Linked DNA regions of Homo sapiens: region 2 is linked to region 1. Evidence: fine-mapped expression QTL. A gene starts in region 1. The other region holds a variant in brackets. All regions are shown on one strand. Distances are from middle to middle. Region 1 holds the start of USP22 (ubiquitin specific peptidase 22). Region 2 overlaps USP22 (ubiquitin specific peptidase 22).

What was found.
Region 2: its variant is fine-mapped to the expression of USP22 in thyroid (GTEx, PIP 0.91).

What each region holds. Positions count from the first base shown.
Region 1 is chr17:21,038,695-21,049,549 of GRCh38, reverse strand. USP22 (ubiquitin specific peptidase 22) reads left to right here and starts at 6,539. Exons shown (of 13, transcript NM_015276.2): 1 at 6,539-6,885. The coding sequence starts at 6,715. RefSeq lists enhancers at 4,821-5,768, 5,769-6,718 and a silencer at 6,254-6,853.
Region 2 is chr17:21,010,813-21,021,667 of GRCh38, reverse strand. It overlaps USP22 (ubiquitin specific peptidase 22), which reads left to right. Exons shown (of 13, transcript NM_015276.2): 3 at 442-555; 4 at 2,483-2,584; 5 at 3,557-3,726; 6 at 5,769-5,916; 7 at 8,733-8,838; 8 at 10,359-10,517. Among named protein-coding and RNA genes, the nearest start is that of USP22, 27 kb to the left of the region's middle. The variant G/A (reference allele first, on the strand shown) is at 5,477.

The sequences.
Region 1 (10,855 bases):
TTGCCCTACAGGTTTCTGAGACTTTGTTTTTTTTTTTCTTACAACTATTTTTTCTTTGTTCTTATGCCATTTCCATTCTGCCTTTAAGCCCATTTGGTGACCTTTTTATTGCAGATATTGATATTTCAGTTCCAGGATTTCTATTTGATTCTTTTGTATAGTTTTTATTTCACTGCTATTTTCTTTTTGTTTTTTTAGAGACAAGGTCTGGCTCTGTTGCCCAGGCTGGAATGCAGTGGTGTGATCATGGCTCACTATAGCCTGCAACTCCTGGGCTCAAGTGATCCTCCCACCTCAGCCACCCAAGTAGCTGGGATTACAGGTGTGTACCACCACACCCAGCTCTTTCTTTTTTTTTTTTTTTTTTTATAGAGACAGAGTTTCATCATGTTGCCTAGGCTGGAATTTGTTTTTTGTAGAGACAGGGTCTCACTATGTTGCCTAGGCTGGTCTTGAACTCTTGGCCTCAAGCGATCCTGCTGCCTCAGCCTCCCAAAGTGCTGGGATTACAGGTGTGAACCACTGCACCTGGCCTTCATTGCTATTTTCCATCTTTCATTCATTTCAAACATACTTTCCTTTACCTCATTGTGCACAGTTACCATAGCTGCTTTGAATTCCTCATATACTAATTTTGATATCTGACATATCTTATGGTTGATCATCTTTCTTGTTTTATTTCTTAAAAAGGGGCACATTTTCCTGTTTCCTCATATGTCAAATAATTTTGAGCTGGGCGCAGTGGCTCATGCCTGTAACCCCAGCACTTTGGGAAGCTGAGGTGGGTGGATCACCTGAGGTTGGGAGTGTGATACCAGCCTGACCAACATGGAGAAACCCTGTCTCTACTAAAAAATACAAAATTAGCCAGGCGTGGTGGTGCATGCCTGTAGTCCCAGCTACTCTGAAGGCTGAGGCAGGAGAATTGCTTGAACCTGGGAGGCGGAGGTTGCAGTGAGCCAAGATCGCACCATTGCACTCCAGCCTGGGCAACAAGAGCGAAACTCCATCTCAAAATAATAATAATAATAATTTTGGATCATATCCTGGACATTACTACTGTTATGTTGTTGAAAGTATGAATTTTGTTATATACCTCCAAAGACAGTTAATATTTTTGTTTTAGCAGGCAATTAATGGTATTTAGTGGTTTCTTGACTAGTAGCTTACATCTCCGCTCACTTCTTTTTGTTCTAGTTTGGCTGCTTGGAATTTGCCCCATAGGAGTGGTTTGGTGGTCAACTGGACCCCTGGATGTAGTTTATGCACAGATTCTGCGGCTTCACATCTCTGAATCTCTTCTCACTTTTCAGTGGCTTTGGTTGCTCTGTACTCTGTCTTCTGCTTCTTCAGTCCAGAAATACCATGGATTTTCTATCAGAGTTTCAGGCTTCCTGTCTAGATGCCAAGTATGTCCTGTCCTCAGTCTATAAACCATCGACATCGGGTTACTCCTATTGGGCAGGTCCCTTTTTCCATGTGTCTGCACCTAACTAGGTCTGCCTGCTTTGGTTCACTCTCCAAAGCCTTTAGATATTTGTGCTTGCATTATGTCCACAGTTCATAGTTGTTATATGAGGGAGGATTGGTCTAGGATTATTACTTGACCATCTAGGAACCATAATTCCATGGGTGTTTTAACTTCTTTTAAATTTGAAAACAAAAATTTAGAAAATAACATTTTAGGCTGTGTTAGTCTCATGGATGGTGGGAAATGCCTTTTCAGGCAAAAACCTGACCAGGTCACACTCCTTTTTAAAAACTGTCTTTCGGCTGGGCGCGGTGGCTCACGCCTGTAATCCCAGCACTTTGGGAGGCCAAGGCGGGCGGATCACGAGGTCAGGAGATCGAGACCATCCTGGCTAACAAGGTGAAACCCCATCTCTACTAAATATACAAAAATTAGCCGAGCATGGTGGCGGGCGCCTGTAGTCCCAGCTACTCGGGAGGCTGAGGCAGGAGAATGGTGTGAACCCAGGAGGCAGAGCTTGCAGTGAGCCTAGATTGCGCCACTGCACTCCAGCCTGGGTGACAGAGCGAGACTCCATCTCAAAAAAACAAAACAAAACAAAAAAAAAACCCTGTCTTCCATACCTAGGTAAGGCATCAAAAAACATTTCCAGATCTCCTCCACCATACCTGTCTGGGGAGGATTACGGTAAAGAGGTGTCTTGGAGTATTACGATATTACCTAGACTTTCCTTTATCGCTGCAGTTTTATATTCCTATAACATCCCGCTAATGTTGCTGGCAATATTGCTACTAAGCACACTACACTGTGGGATTCTTTTTTTTTTTTAAGACACCGTCTCACTGTATCACCAAGGCTGGAGTGCAGTGGCGCGATCTTGGCTCACTGCAACCTCCACCTCCCAGATTTAAGTGATCCTCCTGCCTCAGCCTCCCAAGTAGCTACAATGACAGGCATGCACCACCACGCCTGGCTAATTTTTGTATTTTTAGTAGAAATGGGGTTTCACCATGTTGGCCATGCTGGTCTTGAACTCCTGACCTTCAGTGATCCACCCACCTTGGCCTCCCAAGGTGCTGGGATTACAGGCATAGGCCACCTGGCTTTCTTTTTTGAGACAGAGTCTTGCTCTGTCGCCCAGGTTGGAGTGCAGTGGTGCAATCTTGGCTCACTGCAACCTCCACCTCCCGGGTTCAAGCGATTTTCTGAGTAGCTGGGACTACAATGGTGCCATCACATCCAGCTAATTTTTTGTATTTTTAGTAGAGACGGGGTTTCGCCATGTTAGCCAGGATAGTCTTGATCTCCTGACCTTGTGATCCGCCCGCCTCGGCCTCCCAAAGTGCTGGGATTACAGGCGTGAGCCACCATGCCCGGCCTTTTTTTTTTTAAATTAAAAAAAAAAAAATTCTCCTCTCCCATCCTCCTGGGATTCTTGAAGCAAGAAATTGTTGTAATCATCTCAATTGCCAGCAACTATCAGATCAATAACTGCTAATGTTTCTTGAGCCCTTATTAACAACAGGCACTTGCTAAGAGTTTTGTATGGATTATCTCATTTATTCCTTGCCATACACTTCAACGTAAGCACAGAGCTGATATTCTCCCAATTTTAACAGATAAGTGAACAGGCTGAGAAATTTAGGCAATCCGCCCAAGGTTACACAGATAGTAGGTGGCAGAGCCTGACTGTAATTTAGCAATCTGACTTGATTCTTGGATACATGAATAAATGCATATACTGAACATGTGGGCCACTGTTTTCTACATGTTGTAGAACAGTGTGTTCCCTCGTACCATGACACTTTGTCATTTCTTTTTAAGTTTTAGTGATTTTTAAATACAAAGGAATATATTAATTTTCATTGTAAGAAAACATTCAAACATTACAGATTAAGTCACATCTACCTTTTCCTTTCCAGAAGTTACTGTTATTGATGGGTGTGTTTCTTTCTTCCAGGCCTTCCATTATTTTCCTACAAACGTCAGCATATTTTCTGTAATTTTCTGCAATTTGTTGTATTCATTTATGTTTTATGACTTTTTGTACTAGTACTTACAGATCTAGTTTTTTTTTTCTCTGTTGCCCAGGCTGGAATCACTGGCATGATCAGGGCTCATTGCAGCCTCGACCTCCTATGCTCAAACAATCCTCCCGCCTCAGCCTGCTGGGTAGCTGGGACTATAGGCGTGCACCACCACAACTGGCTTTTTTTTTTTTTTTTTAATTTCTTTGTAGAGATAGGGTTTCATCACATTGCCCAAGCTGGACTTCATTCTTTTTAATAGCTGTGTACTATTCCCTAGAATGGCTAGTCCATCATTTATTCAATGATTCTCCTATTAATCGTCATTAACGTTTCCATTTGTTTCCCATTAGAAAAAAAGCACTTCATCCATACATCTTTTGGGGACTGCTTCTCAAGAGTATATTCTGTAGTTTAAATTTTTTAAAATCACTAAGGTTGTTCTGATTATGGAACATTTAAATCATTATAATTGATTCAAGTGGACAGCACAGATATTCTTCTGTGCTTAGATGATCGTATTGATAAAAAAAAAGATAATAAATATTAGGGCCTGAATGCTAAGTGCACATTTGTGAAGCCAAATCATATTTGTATAAGCCCAACAATATGAGAAAACTCCTTACATCAATATTTATAGAGATGGATCACATATTTTTGTAATTCCTGACTTACTAGTTAGGATTTTAGTTTTTTGTAAGCTGACATTCTTTCCTCTAACATAAACATGGTTTTCCTTAACAAGTGTTTTATTCTAGAAATGGTCTCGTTAGATTTTTCTGTAAATGTGTTTCGGGTTAATTAATTCGGCAGGGTTTTGTTTTGTTTAGAGATGGGGTCTTGCTTTGTTGCCCAGGCTAGAGTGTAGTGGCACAATCACAGCTCACTGCAGCCTTGACCTCCTGGGCTCTGCGATCCTCTTGCCGTAGCCTCTGGAGTAGCTGGGACTACTATAGGGCTTCACCGGGTAATTCCGAGTACCTGCATGTAGCCAATACAGTTCTGGGAACTTGCGGCTGTAGTAGTACATAAAACACACAATATCATTACCCTCTTGGAGGCCAGGCGCAGTGGCTCACGCCTATAAGCCCAGCACTGTGGGAGGCCGAGGCTGGTGGACCACTTGCTGTCAGAAGTTCAAAACCAGCCTGACGAAACCCCATTTCTAGTAAAAGTTCCAGATCAACATGGTGAAAGCCCCTCTCTACTAAAAATACAAAAATTAGCGGCGTGGTGGCAGGCGCCTGTAATATCAGCTACTGGGGAGGCTGAGGCAGGAGAATCGCTTGAATCTGGGAGGCGGAGGTTTCAGTGAGCCGAAATTGCACCACTGTACTCCAGCCTTGGGCAACAGAGCGAGACTCTGTCTCAAAAATAAAAAATAAAAAAAAAAGATTACCCTCTCGTAATTTTTCATGCTATTAAGGGAAGAGACAATAAAAAAAATAAGTAAATATTCATTACGCCAGATAGTGATAAATTCTTTGGAGAAAAACAAAGCAGGGTAAGGGAATGGAGAATTTTGGGGGGCTTGCAATTTTCATTAGGGTGGCAATTTTCCTTTTCACGGAAAAGGAGGTGTGTGATAAAGCTGGAAGGAGGTGAGCGAGCATCAGACATGGAATATAAGGATGCAGAGGGTGAGGGGGTAGGGAAAGCATTTTAGGGAGAGGGTACTGCAAGCACGAAGGCCATGAGGCAAAAACCTGTGCTCGGCAATTTGTCTTGGCCACAAAAGCTTTATCCCAGTCGTCAGTCCATTAAACCCTGTAGCTTTAAGTGTTGTGAGATCACAATCTTTATTTTTTAACTTGTGATGGTTCTGGACGGCAATTGCTGTTTCCTGCAATCTGTGGATGAATGAATGAGCAAAGCAGTTAGCAGCGGGATGAGTACAGGGGAGCAGCTCCACACCTGACACCTTATCCAAGTTCCCCCAGACCCTTGGCGCCCTGGTTCCCCCAGAACTTCGTTTGCATTCGTCTTTAAATGTCTTCTCAGTTTGCCTTGGGTCAGTTATTTGTATACCGATTAGACCTGTGCCGCCCACTGCGGTAGCAGCTAGTAGGAATTGGATGTGCTTTAAGTGTAAATACCAGATTTCCAAGACTTGCTGCAAAAACTGTAAAACATTCCACTAACGATTTTGCAATACTGCCTACATGCTGAAATAATTTGACTTTATTGGGTTGAGATATATTACTGTAACTTTCTTTTTTCATTAGAAAAATGTAGCCACTAGCAAATGTGAAGTGTCAGGCGTGTGGCGCGCAGATGCCTCTTTAAACTGGATGGCGCCGGGTTGGCCCTCACTATCAGCGGGCTCCCGACAGGAGGCGCCCCAGCTTGCGGCCGGGGGCAGCGCCTACCAGGCAGTTGGCAGGCAGTTCCAGCCCCGGGCCACGGCACTGCAGGGCCCGAGCCAGGTTACGGCAACCGGGGGCCCTGCAAACAGCTCCCGATTAGGGGGTGCTTTTGGGTGGGAAAGCGCAGGCCCTGGATGGAGGCCCGACCTGCGGCGCTCCAGCTCATCGCCCCGCCTCTTTGCGGCAGAGCTCAGGCCGGCGCAAACCGGTTCAGTGCTAGGACTGACGTCTCGCGCCGCCCAACCGCAGCACGCCCCCGCCTCCCCAGTCCTCTGGAAGAGACAGGGAACGTCTAGCCGCCAGGGTCCCGGGAGGCGGCTCTGTACCAGACGGACTATACTGAGAGCCTATGACAATAGCCGAAGGTGCCGGGGGGGGGGGGGGGGTGGCCTACTACCAATAAAGGAAGGGGAGGGGCGGGCCCTCGTTAGCTTCCCCCCCCTACCACGCTTCCTCGGGCGCGGGTCTACCCAGAGCCTAACGGGCGCGCGAGTGTGGGGGAAGGGCCTGGCGCGGGCTGGAGACTGCGCAGTGCGGTGCCGGCCGGGAGGGGGGGGGGGGGTGACGTAATCTCCGTCCGCGGCCGCGGCGCCCCGCCCCGCGACACCCTCCGCGAACCGCGAGAGCGCAGCGCAGGCGGTCCGCAGCAGCCGCAGCTCGGGGGCGGTGCCTGCCTTGCAGCCTCCCCTCGGCGATCGCGCAGCCCCATCTTTGTCCGGCCTCCGCGCTTTGTTCTCGGCGCCCGGGCCTTGGCCAGCCTGGCCAGCCGCCGAGCAGCCCCCACGCCGCGCTGGCGTCGTCCTCGCCTCCCTCGCCGCCGCCCCCCGCGCGCGGCCGGGCCTTGCCCCCCATGGTGTCCCGGCCAGAGCCCGAGGGCGAGGCCATGGACGCCGAGCTGGCGGTAGCGCCGCCGGGCTGCTCGCACCTGGGCAGCTTCAAGGTGGACAACTGGAAGCAGAACCTGCGGGCCATCTACCAGTGCTTCGTGTGGAGCGGCACGGCTGAGGCCCGCAAGCGCAAGGTGCGCCCGGCAGCCCACCGCGCGGCGGGCTCGGGGCCTTCTGCCGCTCCTGAGGCCGGCCGGCGGAGGGGCCCTTTTCCTGCCCTCTTCCCTTCCCCCGTTGCCTTTCCCTGTCCTTCCTCTTCCTCTCTCCTTCTGCCCTCTCTTCTCTTTACCCCTTCCCCCTCCTTTCCTTCCCCCCTCAACTCTCTCCCTTCCCTTATCTCCTCATCTTCCTATCCTTCCCCTCTCCCCCCTTCCCCCATTCTTCCTTTCCCTCCCCCTCCTCTCTGTCCCCTCCCCCTCCTCTCTGTCCCCTCCCCCTCCTTTCTCTCCGCCCTCCCCCTCCCTTATCCTTCTTGGCCCGGGAGGGGCGAGTGCTTCCGGGCCGGGGGTGGTGTTCTCCTGCCCTGCTGCCTGGGGAGCCTGGGACTTCGGTGGGCGGTCCCGGGCGTTCCTGCGCGAGGTCCTTGCGGGGAACTCTCCTGGTTCTGGAGGGTTCGGGGCTGGATGCGGGTGCAGAGAAAGAAATATTTCAAAAAAATGAGTAAAGGATGGGGGGCTGTCGAGTTCTGGGCGTTGGTCTGCAGCGGTCACCCGCCGCCAGGAGCGACCTTGGACGGGAGCTGGGGCAGGAGGCGGGCTGGGGGGCGCGGGGCCGGAGCTTCGCGGCTGCCTCGGGGCCCGCGAGGAGCTGGAGGTGGAGGGCGGCAGGGGCTGGGGCCGGGGCGAGCCTGTGGGTGCGGAGCCACAGCCCGGGTTTGCGTTGCGGCTGAGGAGTAGACTTGGAAGCGCGCCGTGGGCTGTGGGAGGCCTTAACCAGGAGTGAGTCCCCTCGGGGAGCCCAGTCTTGCGTCCCGCAGTTAGGCTTGGTAAGGGTTTGGAAATCAAAACGTAACGTGATTCTTCTATGTGAATAAAGTTTATTTTTACAGTTTCACGCGCTTTTGTAGATTACAATCCGAGATTGGGAGTTGTGAGGGCAGTTTCCACCTTGAGTGGCATTTTTTTATTTATGGGAATACCAACAGGCTCGCTGAGATTGTAGGGTATGTTAAGCAGTAATTCAAAAAAAAAATTATTTTTTTGAGACGAAGTCTCGCTTTGTACCCCAGGCTGGAGTGCAGTGGCGCGATTTCGGCTCACTACAATCTCCGCCTCCCGGGTTCAGCCGATTCTCCTGCCTCAGCCTCCTGAGTAGCTGGGATTACAGGCTCCTGCTACCACGCCCGGCTAATTTTTGTATTTTTAGTAGAGACGGGGTTTCACCATGTTGGCCAGGCTGGTCTGGAACTCCTGATCTCAGGTGATCCACCCGCCTCTGCCTCCCAAAGTGTTGGGATTACAGGCATGAGCCACCGTGCCCGGCCTCAAAATTTTTTTTATCTGTAATGGTATCAGGTAGCGTTATGTCTGGATGAACTAAAATCAGACATAAAACGTTTCAGGATCGGAGTTAGAGTCTTGCTAGTAGAATTGTGTGTCTTTAAGAAAAGATGGCCTGGCTTGGCGCGGTGGCTGACGCCTGTAATCCCAGCACGTGGGGAGGCCGAGGGGGGCAGATCACGAGGTCAGGAGTTCGAGACCAGCCTGGCCAACATGGTGAAACCTCATCTCTACTAAAAATACGAAAAGTAGCCGGGTGTGATGGCGGGCGCCTGTAATCCCAGCTACTCCAGAGGTTGAGGCAGGAGAATCACTTCAACCCGGGAGGCGGAGGTTGCAGTGAGCAGTGATCGCGCCACTGTACTCCAGACTGGGTGACAGAGCAAGACCCCCTCCGGAAAAAAAAAAAAAAGGGTGGCCTGGTTGAAGCCAGTCTTCTACAGGGAATGTGCTGTTGCTACTCTGGGTCAGTAGTGTCCGGATTGGGACGTGACGCGCCCAAGATTTGTTACTACTTTGGATGAAGTGGGGACCGCCCCACTCTTCCTCTCCCTCCTTTTCTTTTTCCGTTCCCTCCCTCCCTCTCCCTTTCTTCCCCCCTCTGGTATTTTTTAACCAAATAGAAGGAGTCAAGTTTAAACCATCATTAACTAACTTTGCCTAATTTCCTAAAGTTAAGAATTACTTTTTTTTTTTGCGCTACTTATGGCTCTGATTAATCTTTTAATTTCAGATGTCAGTTGCTTAGTTTCAAAACTGTTGAGCCACATGTATGTTATTCACCAATTAGAAGTTGAACTGTAGTCGGGTAGTGAAAAATATTTCTTTCAAAATTTAGGTGGGGGCTGCTGCAGTGCCAGTTGGCAGTGTGCCAGCAAGGAGCCCTTAAGCCCTCCATGCTTTTTCCTCTGACTGGGGGGACTTATTTACCTGTATCACTTCATGTGCGGTGTCCTGCATTTCTAGCACTCTCTAGTGGCCCAGTTAAGGAAGAGTTGGTTTGGGAAATAGTTTAACAAACCTGATGATTAACAGTTGGACAATCTGCATAGGATTTCCATCAGATCTGTAAGCTTAGGACATTTTGTTTTTTAAATTTTATTTTATTAAAAATTATTTTTTGTAGAGACAGAGTCTTGCTCTGTTACCCAGGATGGAGTGCAATGGTCTGGTCAGTGATCACTGCAGCCTCAGATTCCTGGACTCCAGCCTCTCCTGAGTAGCTGGGACTACGGGCGTGTGTCACCACGACCGGCTAATATTTGTAGAGACAGTGTCTCACTATATTGCACAGGCTGGTCTTGAACTCCTGGACTCAAGCCATCCTCCTGTCTCCCAGAGTGCTGGGATTACAGGCCAGAGCCACTGAGCCCAGCCATATTTTTGGTTTTAATGATATGAACTTGACTGTAAAAGTACTTTAAGCTGATGATTGTGCCACTGTACTCCAGCCTGGACAACAAAACCTATCTCAAAACAAACTTCAACTTGAATTATAATCTTTGTAAACAAACAAAGGTACTTTTTGAGATGGACATCTCAGGTACAGTTTAAAGAAATGAATCCCTGAATGAATAGGAATTACGAGTTTTGTTATCTAAGGACAGATGGATTATGCATTTTGTACCCAAACTTTGATTCTTCTTTTAACAGGCAGAACATGACAAAAACATGACCAGGCTTGATAAATTTCTGTCCAAAAGAAGCTTGAATTGCAGTAAAACTCTGTTTTTTGAGATGGGGTTTTCACTCTTTTTGCCCAGGCTGGAGGGCAATGGCGTGATCTCGGCTCACCACAGCCTCCCCCTCCAGGGTTTAAGTGATTCTCCCAAGTAGCTGGGATTACAGGCATGCGCCACCATGCCTGGCTAATTTTGTATTTTTCGTAGAGATGGGGTTTCTTCATGTTGGTCAGACTGGTCTCGAACTCCCAACCTCAGGTGATCCGCCCATCTTGGCCTCCCAAAGTGCTGGGATTACAGGCATGAGCCACCGCGCCTGGCCCGAATTGCCATAAAACTCTTGTATTGCAGACTATAAAAATATTTCTGCCGGGCATGGTGGCTCACGCCTGTAATCCCAGCACGTTGGGAGGCCGAGGCGGGCGGATCACGAGGTCAGGAGATCGAGACCATCCTGGCTAACACGGTGAAACCATGTCTTTACTAAAAATACACAAAATTAGCTGGGCATGGTGGCACGCGCCTGTAATCCCAGCTACTCGTGAGGCTGGGGCAGGAGAATCGCTTGAACCAGGGAGGCGGAGGTTGCAGTGAGCCGAGATCGCACCACTGCACTCCAGCCTGGGCGACAGAGCGAGACCGTCTCAAAAAAAAAGAAAAAAACTATTTCCATGATTTAGGACTGGCACGACCACAGTGGCGTCTCCTTTGTGTTTTTGGTGTGTGTTAAATATAACAAATTTCTTACCATTTCAGGGTTTGTCTGTAAAGATAGGAACTGGCAGGAAGTGATTATGATTTAACATTCTACATTATATTTTGAATATAGACACTTTGGAGAACAGGTAATGTTTTTAAAACCATTTCTCTCTTTGAATCTAAAATTTTATGGCACTGTGTCCTCAAAACACTTTTTTAAATTT
Region 2 (10,855 bases), 28 kb after region 1:
CACAAAAGTCACAGCAAGTTGCTGCCACATTCTTTATGGTGATGGTGTCAGGAATTCTAGATGGAGGGAAGCATAGTCACTCCGTGTCAGGTGGCCAGGACTGAAAATATCCAATGCAGTTGTACCAGTTTTAAATACCACGCATTCAGAGAAGGTGGCAGAGGTCCTGATCCTGGAGTATTGGCTGCTTTGAAAAGTATGTATGGGTCGCCTCTGTTTTTTAAGACACCTCAGCCCTGGGCATGAGCTGCCAAACACAGTGCATGCCCCTCACCTGCTCAGGATAGGAGACTCCGCTGGACTGGCTTCCCTGCTTGTGAATAGGAAGGTGCTGTGAACAGTCAGTATCTACAGAACCTCACTGTGTTTAACTCTGCCCTCCAGCCTTCCATTGTGGTTTTTAATTCAACTTGGTTTCTCCTCCCTCCTTTCTCTCCTCAGCCATTGATCTGATGTACGGAGGCATCTACTGTTTTCTGTGCCAGGACTACATCTATGACAAAGACATGGAAATAATCGCCAAGGAGGAGCAGCGAAAAGCTTGGAAAATGCAAGGTTTGGTTCCACCTCAGTTTACCTGCTTGATCCTGCAGTTCCCTCATGTCCATCAAGGGCAGACCCAGTAGGAGAAAGAGAAGTACCTAGGTGGGAAGTGGCAGGCTGGTGGGAAGAGGCCGTCCCCACCTTCCCCTAAGGCCCACAGTGGAGTCAGCTGAAGCTCTGCATGACAGGGGAGGTGGCTAGTGTCGAGGCATGCATAGCTGCCCGTGTGCTTGGGACCACTTCCAGGGTGCTTCCCTTGCAGGTCCCCCATGGGCCTGCAGCTGGGCCAAGGGAACAACCCCAGCATTACTTAAGCTCTCCCAGGGCGCACCTGCAGATGTGGGGCTGAACGAGTGTGGCGAGGTCACACCTCTCGGGGACAGGTGACTCCGTATCTGGACATCCCTGAGTGGTTTGCCCTCAGCTCTGCCGAATTCTAGCAAGCGATCTCTTTGCAGTAATGTTATATGTAAACATACCTCCTTCCTCCCAGGAGAGCAGACTATTTTCGGATCAAGTTGTGGTAGAATCTCTTTTAAAACTCTGGACTGTTTGGGTGATGTTAAATCCATGTCAACAGCGTGCACCCACCAGATGGAAACTAGACCCACCAGATGGAAACTAGACCCACCAGAAGGAAACTAGGAGAGTCTCCCAGCAGCCCCACTGCACAGTCAGATCCTTGCCATCTTGTGAGCTGCCCTCACGGCTCTCGCACCAGTGTGGGTTTTGCACTTGCCGTCGCCACCGTGTGGCCACACACACTGGTTATTGGCTACACAGAGTGAGAGGAGCAAACATGCAGTCATTTTCTTTATTTTTTATTTCTTCTTGGCTTCCCTGAGTTTTTTTTCCTTTTTTTTTTTTTTTTTTTTTTTTTGGTTTTTGATTCTGACAGATGCTCATAGTGGTTGACAGTGATAGTGACATAGTGACAGGTGTGGTTTACCCCAGTTGACAGGTGAGCATCTGATCTCCCTGGTAGCAAAGCCATCACTGTTTGCAAAGGAAACATATGAACCTGACACCTGTTTTACATTCTTGCCTTGATTACTCTCCATTGAAAACACCCCAGTGTTTTGAGAAGGGAAGAATAGCAACAGGGGCTCTTTCAGTGAGCAGAATTATTTGTGTTTAACAAGTCTTCTCTGGAGAGCAATCTCTGACTTGTGTTCGCTGTTCTTTTCCCTCTCAGAAATTTAATAACATTGTGACTAAGTGTGGGTGTATTATTCTGTGCAGAGCACTTAAAGCACGGGCCTAAGAAATGTATGTCCAGGATTAAAATGGAATTCTTCTAGAATCATTTTATAATTCTGTCTATCCAACATGCTGTGTCTTTTAAAGTATTTTGAAGTATTCAGAAATGTTGGTTGGCATGGAACAAGTACTTCTGAGCGCATAGGGTGTGCGTTGAATGGAATACTATGCCAATTAGCATTTACCACCACTCTCTGAATATTTTGTGGCACACACGTTTTTAACTGTTGGATCTATCTTAGTTTGGTAACTCGACGCTGAGTTTATGCTATTTCAGTTTGCTGAAAAGTGCAAGCTCTCTCCTTCAATTTCACTTGTTTGCGGGAGAATCCTTCATGTAAGTTCCCATTGGTGCTGATGCTGCCATCTCTGTGCTGAAGGATGGAAGACATTTGAAAAACAACTGTTTTGGCATTGGCGTTGGGGTAGTTTTGACTGGAGGTGCTGCTTTTCTTGCAGGAAACGTAGCTCACATCCTCATACCCTCTGTGAGAAGCTCCTTTAAGTGTTGTGTGTAGCCCCTCTCAGCACAGTAGAGTTTGAGAAAGCCCTGGTGCTGTGGATGTTGCTCACTGAAATGCACCCTGACAGACAGCATAGCGCCACAGCTTTTATGTGTAAACACACTTGATGTGAAAATCTAGCTAATAGCGCTTGGAACTGTCCTTCATCTGCTTAGGCGTTGGAGAGAAGTTTTCAACTTGGGAACCAACCAAACGGGAGCTTGAACTGCTGAAGCACAACCCGAAAAGGAGAAAGATCACCTCGAACTGCACCATAGGTGGGTGGAGCGTGTCGTCACTCTCAGCTAGGCTTCTTTCCAGGGTTTAAAAGTAAATACAGAATTGTGGGTTTCTTAAGTCCACATGATTCTGTTGAAGCCCTGCATAACTGTCACTCATCAATGTGCTCAGCAACCAGCTCTTGAGCACCTGTTCTCTGCAGGGACCTGCAGTGGGCTTGGGGCGCAGAGTGATGCGTAGCAACAGCCCTGCCCTCACAGCCTTCAGCGTCTGTGTGGGTAAAGGGACTCAAGTTGATTTTGGCCAGGGTGAGGCTGGGCACAGTAATCTTCAGGGAGAGAAATGATGTGTGTGAGTGTAAGTGTTCGCTGAATTTTCTACAAATTGAGGGAATACCCTTTAAAACTTTTTCTTTTTCTTTTTTGAGACAGAGTCTTGCTCTGTTGCCCAGGCTGGAGCACAGTTCACTGCACCCTCTGTCTCCTGGGCCCAAGCGATCCTTCCACCTCAGCCTCCCAAGTAGCTGGGATTGCAGGTGCACACCACCATGTTTGGATAATTTTTGTGTTTTGCGTAGAGACATCTCACCATGTTGCCCAGGCTGGTCTCGAACTCCTGGGCTCCAGTGATCCTCATGCCTTGGCTTCCCAGAGTGCTGGGTTACAAGTATGAGCCCCTGCCCTGGCCCTAGAACATTTTTAAAAACCTGTTTTGTTTGTTCATTAGGCTTCACTCTGACCTGGCCTGTTGTCGTAGAAACTATATTTGTGTAATTCTGTCAAAGCATACAATGGCTGAAGTGGGAGGGGTCCATGGTGGTGGACATTCTTCAATACCGTTCATGTAAAAGTGGCATAAAAACTAGCAGAATGCGATATCTCATCGTGTTCTGGCTTGAATGAATGAATAAAAGAAAATGAGTATGTAGAGGTAGAGGAAGCCGCTGGGATCCAGCGACACCTGTGGTTCAGCACACAGGTAACTCCTGCTCTCTGGTGATTTGTGTCCAGGTCTGCGTGGGCTGATCAACCTTGGGAACACATGCTTCATGAACTGCATCGTGCAGGCCCTGACCCACACGCCACTTCTGCGGGACTTCTTCCTGTCTGACAGGCACCGCTGTGAGATGCAGAGCCCCAGCTCCTGTCTGGTCTGTGAGATGTCCTCACTGTTTCAGGAGGTGAGCGCCATTGACTTCTGCAGGGGAACATTTCTGTTACTTTGTTTTCACCTTCAAAAAAAAAATTTAAGGTGGACCATGATAAAGGAAGATACATTTAGAACCTTTTGTAGTAAGTTAATGTTTAATATACATGTCTATTATGGAAAACACAGTTTTCCAAAAAGGGAAGACCTGGCGTGATTTTTGGGGACGCACTGCTGACTCAGAACAAGGAGAAGCCCTTTGAGAGGCTTGTGGCAGAGACTTCCCTGGTGGGTGACATTTGTCTCTAAAGACGGGTGATTCTCCCCCTTCCTCTTCCTCCATGGTCTACCTTCCTGGCTCAGAAAGGCACGCATGTGTCACCCTCCTGTGTCCTCCTGGTATGCGAGTCTCCTCCACCGCCAGGTCTCTCTAAGCATGCCCCATCAGAGCCTCTGTCCTCATGAGCTACGCGCTGCACGTTGGCTGTTCCTGTGGGCTGCACGTGTGGCGTTCCTGTCCACTTCTGTCCCCGGCATCAGAGCATGGCAGCGTTCAGAGCAAGGCGTTCACGGCTGCCGCCTCAGCCCTCACCGGCTCCGTGACCTAGACATGCTTCTCAGAGCTGAAGCAGCTCAGTTACCTCAACTAATAAGCAGGCTGGTGCCTGTTCTTCAGGTGCCTTGCACAGGAGCCAGCCAACAGCCCTGGCCTGTTCCCATTCGTAACCTCTGCGAGAGATGCAGCCACGCCAGCTCACTCATGTCTGTCTGGTCACTGGTCGCTTTTGTGGGACAGCCACAGAGTTGAGCAGTTGGACAGAGGCTATCCAACCTGCAAAGCTGAAATTATTTACTGTCCAAGCCTTTCAAAAACAGATTGCCAGCCTCTGGTCGAGCCTAACCGATTTCCTCAAAGTACCTGCAATGTGCCATAACTGCTGGGGACACGGCCCAAATAGGAGAAAGGAGGGTGCAGCTGGGAAGTTGGTGGGTGGTTGTATCACTGACTTTAGTGATAAGCTCACTTGTGTTAGATTGTTTTTAGACTCCGGCTTGTTAAGGTGTAAATTACAGTCACACCCACCTTCTAGCCTATAGATAGATGAGTTTCGACGAATGCATAGTTGTGTAACTGCTGCTACTCAAGATGAAGAACTGTTACCTCTCCGAACTCCCTCGTGCCCCTCCGAAGTCAACCCCCAGTCCCCAGACCCTGGTAGCTGCCGATCTGTCTTCGGTCCCTTGAGTGTCCTTTACCAGCGCATCATACGGATGGATGCATGCAGGAAGTAGCCTTTCTGAATCTGGCTGTCCCTACTTAATGTAATACTGGGTGGATTCACCCGTGTCTTGCGTGCATCCATGATGTGTGCTTTCGATGTCTGAGTTGGGTTCCATTATGTAGATGGGTTATGGTTTAGTTGTCTGTTTCCCAGTTCAGACACATTTGGGTGGTCTGTGGTTTTGGGTTTTTTGATGAGAAATAAAACTGCCCTGAATTCTGTATTTGCACAGGCAAGACCCCTCTGTGGGTTCTGACCTGGGGAGGAAGCCGTGGGATGGAAGGTGTGCTGCTGGGTCTGCGGCTGGAGTTGAGCTGTTGGAGAGGACTGGCTGGCAAGCCCTCAGCTAATTGCCATTAGCCTCAGAGGCAGAGAATCCTGTGGCTGATGCTGGTGAATTCTGCATAATCACAGTGATGTGCTTCCCTTTGCGGAGGTGCTGGTGTCCATGGGCCTGAGTGGTTTGGCTAGTGCTTTGAGGAAACTAGTATTGGGCAAATC[G/A]AGTCACTTTTATTTGCATGTGATCTCATAGTAGCAAGTCATAATTCATTTTTTAGGCTTATATGTGGAAAACTAGATGGTAGAAAGGAAAAAATTCATATGAGGACTCGAAAAGTCCAGTGAGCCCAGATAAAAATAGACTTTGCAAAAAGTAGAAAAGTAAAATCCAAACATTTGTGTCAAATGAGCCACAGCCAATGGTAGGCATCTGATAAAGGTTTTGATTGTGTGTACTCTGTGTTCAGAGTCTACATTTATTCCTGACAAGGTTTCCTTCCCCGCCCTCTGGCAGTTTTACTCTGGACACCGGTCCCCTCACATCCCGTATAAGTTGCTGCACCTGGTGTGGACCCACGCGAGGCACCTAGCAGGCTACGAGCAGCAGGACGCCCACGAGTTCCTCATCGCGGCCCTGGACGTGCTCCACCGACACTGCAAAGGTGGGCCCTGGGCTCTGCACCCTCCACCAGGGCAGGATGTTTTCCTTGAAGGGGAAGGAAGCAAAGCGAGTGTATGCACTCGTGCAAAAAGGGGCACAGGTGACACATTCCATTGTTTTGTCATCATAGCCCTTGTCGTCATTTGTTTCTGAAGTCACCATAACTAATGACCTCAGAGAGGCTCCTCCTAGTTTATTTTTAAGAGGCGAGGAAGTAGTTCCAGCAGTATGACAGGTCCTCAGTGACCGATCACAGTGAACAGCAAACTCTTGGAGCCCTCTTGGGCCTGTGCTTTGAGGCCCCTGCCTGCCCTGGCATTTCTGGGACCCTGTGGGTTATCAGGCCTGAGGCTTCTGGACATCCCCCAAACACAACTTAATCACCCAACTGTCTCCTTCCCATTGGGGACTCTCCAAAAGGACTGATGGTTGCTCTGAAATAGCCAGAGAGCTGGGACACAGGACGAGCAAAGCTTCTCTTGGGGTCTCATTGGACCTGGGCCATCTCCCCCAACATAGTCCCACAGCCTGGCCCCAGGGTGGTACCCTGATGATTTTTCAGAGTTGTGTGGTGTTGGTAGTTGGCAGGGGCAGCTCTTAGCGCTGGAGGTGGGAGGCTGGGAATGAATGACTTGAGCCAAGATCGGCTCCTCCCCACTCCTCATGGTGGAGATCCCAGTGTGAGGGACCTGCAGCTGAAGTCTATCCATACAGGCAGAGAGACTGAGAGGTGATTCTCAGATGAGTGTGGGCTGGTCACTTGCAGGTCTTCCTAAAGCCCGTGCTGGCGTTTCTGATTCAGCAGATCTGTGGGGGGCAGGGGCTTCTTCACTCTTAATCAGTTCCCAGCTGATGTTGATGCCGCTGGTTCAGATGCCATACTCTGAGAACCCATGCGCTCAGGTCACAGGGCACCTGGCTGCTTGTGAGTTTCCTGTGGTCTCTGGGCTGGCACAGCTAGTTGTAGCCGATATCCTATCAGTTAATTTTAACTTGGAGTCTTTTAGAGAACAGAGTCCTGTTCTGACGGTTCACCGAGTTGAACAGCTTGGTGGGCTGGCCTTCCCATCGCTTCTCATCCGTCTCAAGGCTGTGCACCCGGGCCCTAGGCGCTTACGTACAACCTATGGGTTCTGAGATCACAGCCCAGAAACAACCCACAGTTGAGCTAAAATGGCTGGTTTTGGTCAAATGTGACTTTGGGTTCTGTTTTCTTTTGGTACTTACTTTTTTTCCTCTGAAAAACTACGTGATCCTTTTAATTCTTACCTAGAAATCAAAGGAAAGTTACTTAGTAGCTTAGGTAGAATTTCATGTCCTAGTATGATTTATAAGAGAGGAAAGAGCCACTGTGGAAGTGACTATGCTGTTACCCCAAGCACCTAGTGAGAATAACGAAGAGCCTTCTGTAAGCAGCAGAAAGATGTTCTAAAAATCACTTGTTCAAAAATGCATTGCTGTTAAATGTTCACATGACAAAATGTGACCTCTGACGTGCTTCTGACAGAATTCCCTTGGAAATGTCTGAAAAGAAATGTAAGGTTCTTCTGTTTAGAAACCTGGTTGCCAGAGCTGTTCAGCGAGGTGGCCTGGCCACATGGCCTTGGTTACGTGCATTTTGTCCTTGTGGCCTTCACGGCATCTTTCTGTTCATCTTTTGTTTTGTTTTGTTTTGTTTTTGAGTCAGAGTCTCGCTCTGTCGCCAGGCTGGAGTGCAGTGGTGCGATCTCAGCTCACTGCAACCTCCGCCTCCCAGGTTCAAGTGATTCTTCTGCCTCAGCCTCCTGAGTAGCTGGGACTACAGGCGCCCGCCACCATGCCCAGCTAATTTTTTGTATTTTTAGTAGAGACGGGGTTTCACCGTGTTAGCCAGGATGGTCTCGGTCTCCTAACCTCGTGATCCGCCCGCCTTGGCCTCCCAAAGTGCTGGGATTACAGGCGTGAGCCACCGCGCCTGGCCATTCTGTTCATCATTCTTTGCGCCTTCCTGTATGGATATTCTTGTCCTCTGAATTTTGTCCCATGAATTTGAGATCCCTCTGGGAAGCATTTTTCTCTCTAATCTTAAACCTTCTGCTCTCAGAAGACTTAGTGGCCCTTCTCTATTCCTCTGTCATGATTCAACGTCTTTGAACTGTGATGTATATACAGGTGTCCTCGTGCCCTGTCCCCACTGTCTAGTGAAGTTATGTAGAATATGTATTCCACACACGAATTAAGTTCTGCTACTTAAGTTTCTTTTTCACAGATCTGCACACATGGATATGAATGAAGTGTGTATTGAATAGAGAGGGTGGGAGTGGCACTTCCAGATGCAACTGACTGGAAGACACGCTGTCCCCTGGGGGCTCTAGCTGATGAGGACAGCCTGTGTCCTGCGGTGTCACTTTCTGAACTTGGGGCACCATGATACCTACTCAGGGAGGGAGGTTGCTGGGGCTTCCCCGGGTGTACCTGGCCCACCATATGTTCAGCTGTCTCACTGGAACAATATTGATTCAGTCATTCTTTATATGATAATGGGAATCGATTATTCTGCTCAGTCACTGGGCATTAGGTGGGTTTTCTTGGCAAGACTGAAGCTGTGGGGCTCTTGTTAGGGAATGAGAAAAAGGAGCATTGAAAATCCAAGTGCTGTGATTTCTCGTCATATTAAAATAACAAGGACACCCTCTGCTAAAATGAGGAGTGTCCTCACATGGCCTTTTAAAGCGTTGGCCCTGGCTCCCCCAGGCTTCTGCAGGGTGAACTGCTCTTCCCTTAGAGACTCCCCATATTTGGGGAGACACTAATCCCAGAGCCGTGGTCTGTCTCCAGGTGATGACAATGGGAAGAAGGCCAACAACCCCAACCACTGCAACTGCATCATAGACCAGATCTTCACAGGCGGGTTGCAGTCAGACGTCACCTGCCAAGTCTGCCAGTAAGTGAGAGGCTGCGTGCTCGGCAATATCAAACCCTCTGGGGCCGTACTGACATCCTCCCAGTCTCCAGAGCTGTGTGTGCTCTGAGAGGTCTTTAAGGAGGCTATGAGATAAATGATTAATAGACGCCATGAGAGCGAAGGTTGTGGGGTGGGGGTGCTTCCTCTTGGGGAGGTCGTAGGGCAGGTGTCCCCTCGGGATGCGAGCCCTTCGTGTTGAGGTCTTGGCTGTTGTCTACAGCCAGCAGTGTGTTCTTGGAAGCTTCCCCTACCATTTTGCATCTTACAGTCCTTGACCAGGGACCAAGTGAAAGAGCCCTCTTCAAGAAGGCGTGGATCATGCATGGTGGATTGTTTTTCTACGTGCTTCGAAGTGTGTTAGTTTTCATTATTTTATGGTTTCTGGTTCCATTTTCTGATGTAGTGGCCCTAATTCTTCTCAGATGTGGTCTCTGCTTAGAGCCTCAAGTGTTGAGTGCAGGGAGAATCCATTGCTTTGTTAGGTCAGGGGACCCTCTCACCCAACCTCAGTGCATGCTACAGGTTTTTTGTTTTTGTTTTTGTTTTTTTCAGGCATGGGGTCTTGTGTATGTTGCCCAGGCTGGCCTTGAACCCATGGGCTCAAGCGATCCTCCCTCCTTAGCCTCCCAAGTAGCTGGGACTACAGGCATGGGCCACCGTGCCTGGCTCTGTTCTTTACTTCAGTTGAAGTTTAAAAACCCTGGACATGATCCACCGAAATTATTTCAGAACCCGAAATGGACTGTCACTTCTAAACTGCATAAGACGAGCAAATATCGGGAAAGGCCAGTGCTGCCTGTGTCACGGGGGCCATTTTCTATAAGGAGCATAGACCGTTTGGGGCCTTGTCTCTGAGTATTAGAAACCGAGTTTGCTCTGAGCAATTTGGACCTCCTCGCTGTCCCTTAACTACTGAATTCCATTAGTAGGAGATTGTCTCAAGATTTAAATCCTGTATAAATATCGAGAGTAAATTTCCCAGTCTGCAAGTTTTCATTTTTTATATTGTTAAATAAATTTCTAGCAAGGAACTGGCCTTGTGAAATGCAGCATTGACTGTCCAGTGCAGGCCACCGGGCCTGGCCTGGGCACGCTCTGTGAAATGTGCAGGGGTCTCCAGTGTTGCCTAGGGTCACAGGCCCCAAGTTCTAGATGCAGCTGAGATAGACCTGTGGATTCAGAGCCTCTGACAGGGCCCATGAGTTTATCCTCCTCCCAAGTCCCTCAGTGACTGTGATGGTCTCCAGACTGGGAAGTCCTTGCTTGAGGAGCGCCCCTCGCCTTCCGAGTTCACACACACCCCTCCCCAGGGCCACCTTGGGAGCCAGGACACGTTGGGTGTGAGCACTGCTGCTCTTGCTCCTGCCCCATCCCACCTGAGTGTCACTGTGACAAAGGGCACAGCGGGGAAGGGATGTGGGAACGGCTTCCACCCCGGGTTGCCTCTGGAGCTGGGTGGGTGTCAGTCCTCACAGCCATTGTTTTCCCTCTGCTTCCAGTGGAGTCTCCACCACCATCGACCCCTTCTGGGACATCAGCTTGGATCTCCCCGGCTCTTCCACCCCATTCTGGCCCCTGAGCCCAGGGAGCGAGGGCAACGTGGTAAACGGGGAAAGCCACGTGTCGGGAACCACCACGCTCACGGACTGCCTGCGACGGTGAGAGGCCTGCACCCACACGGCGGGGGCGTGTCTCCTGGCCAGAAGGCTGTGCTCCATCAGGACCAAAGCAGGGCTCTTTCACATGCCCAGGACAGAGCCTGGGCAAAGGTGCAGCATGAGCCTGGATTGGCTGCAGTCTCTTGTGCTAGTTTGTCCTTTGTTTTGGCCAGATGACTCAATATTTCTGTCCCCCAGCTTCGCACAGCACCAGGTGTCAGTGTCAGCAGCTGCTACTCCAACCTCCGCATGTAAATGAACCCAGAGCCAAACTGGCTGCTCCCTTAGCCCTTGCACTAATCACCTACCCCGGAGTGTGAGCTGAGATGCGCCCGGGC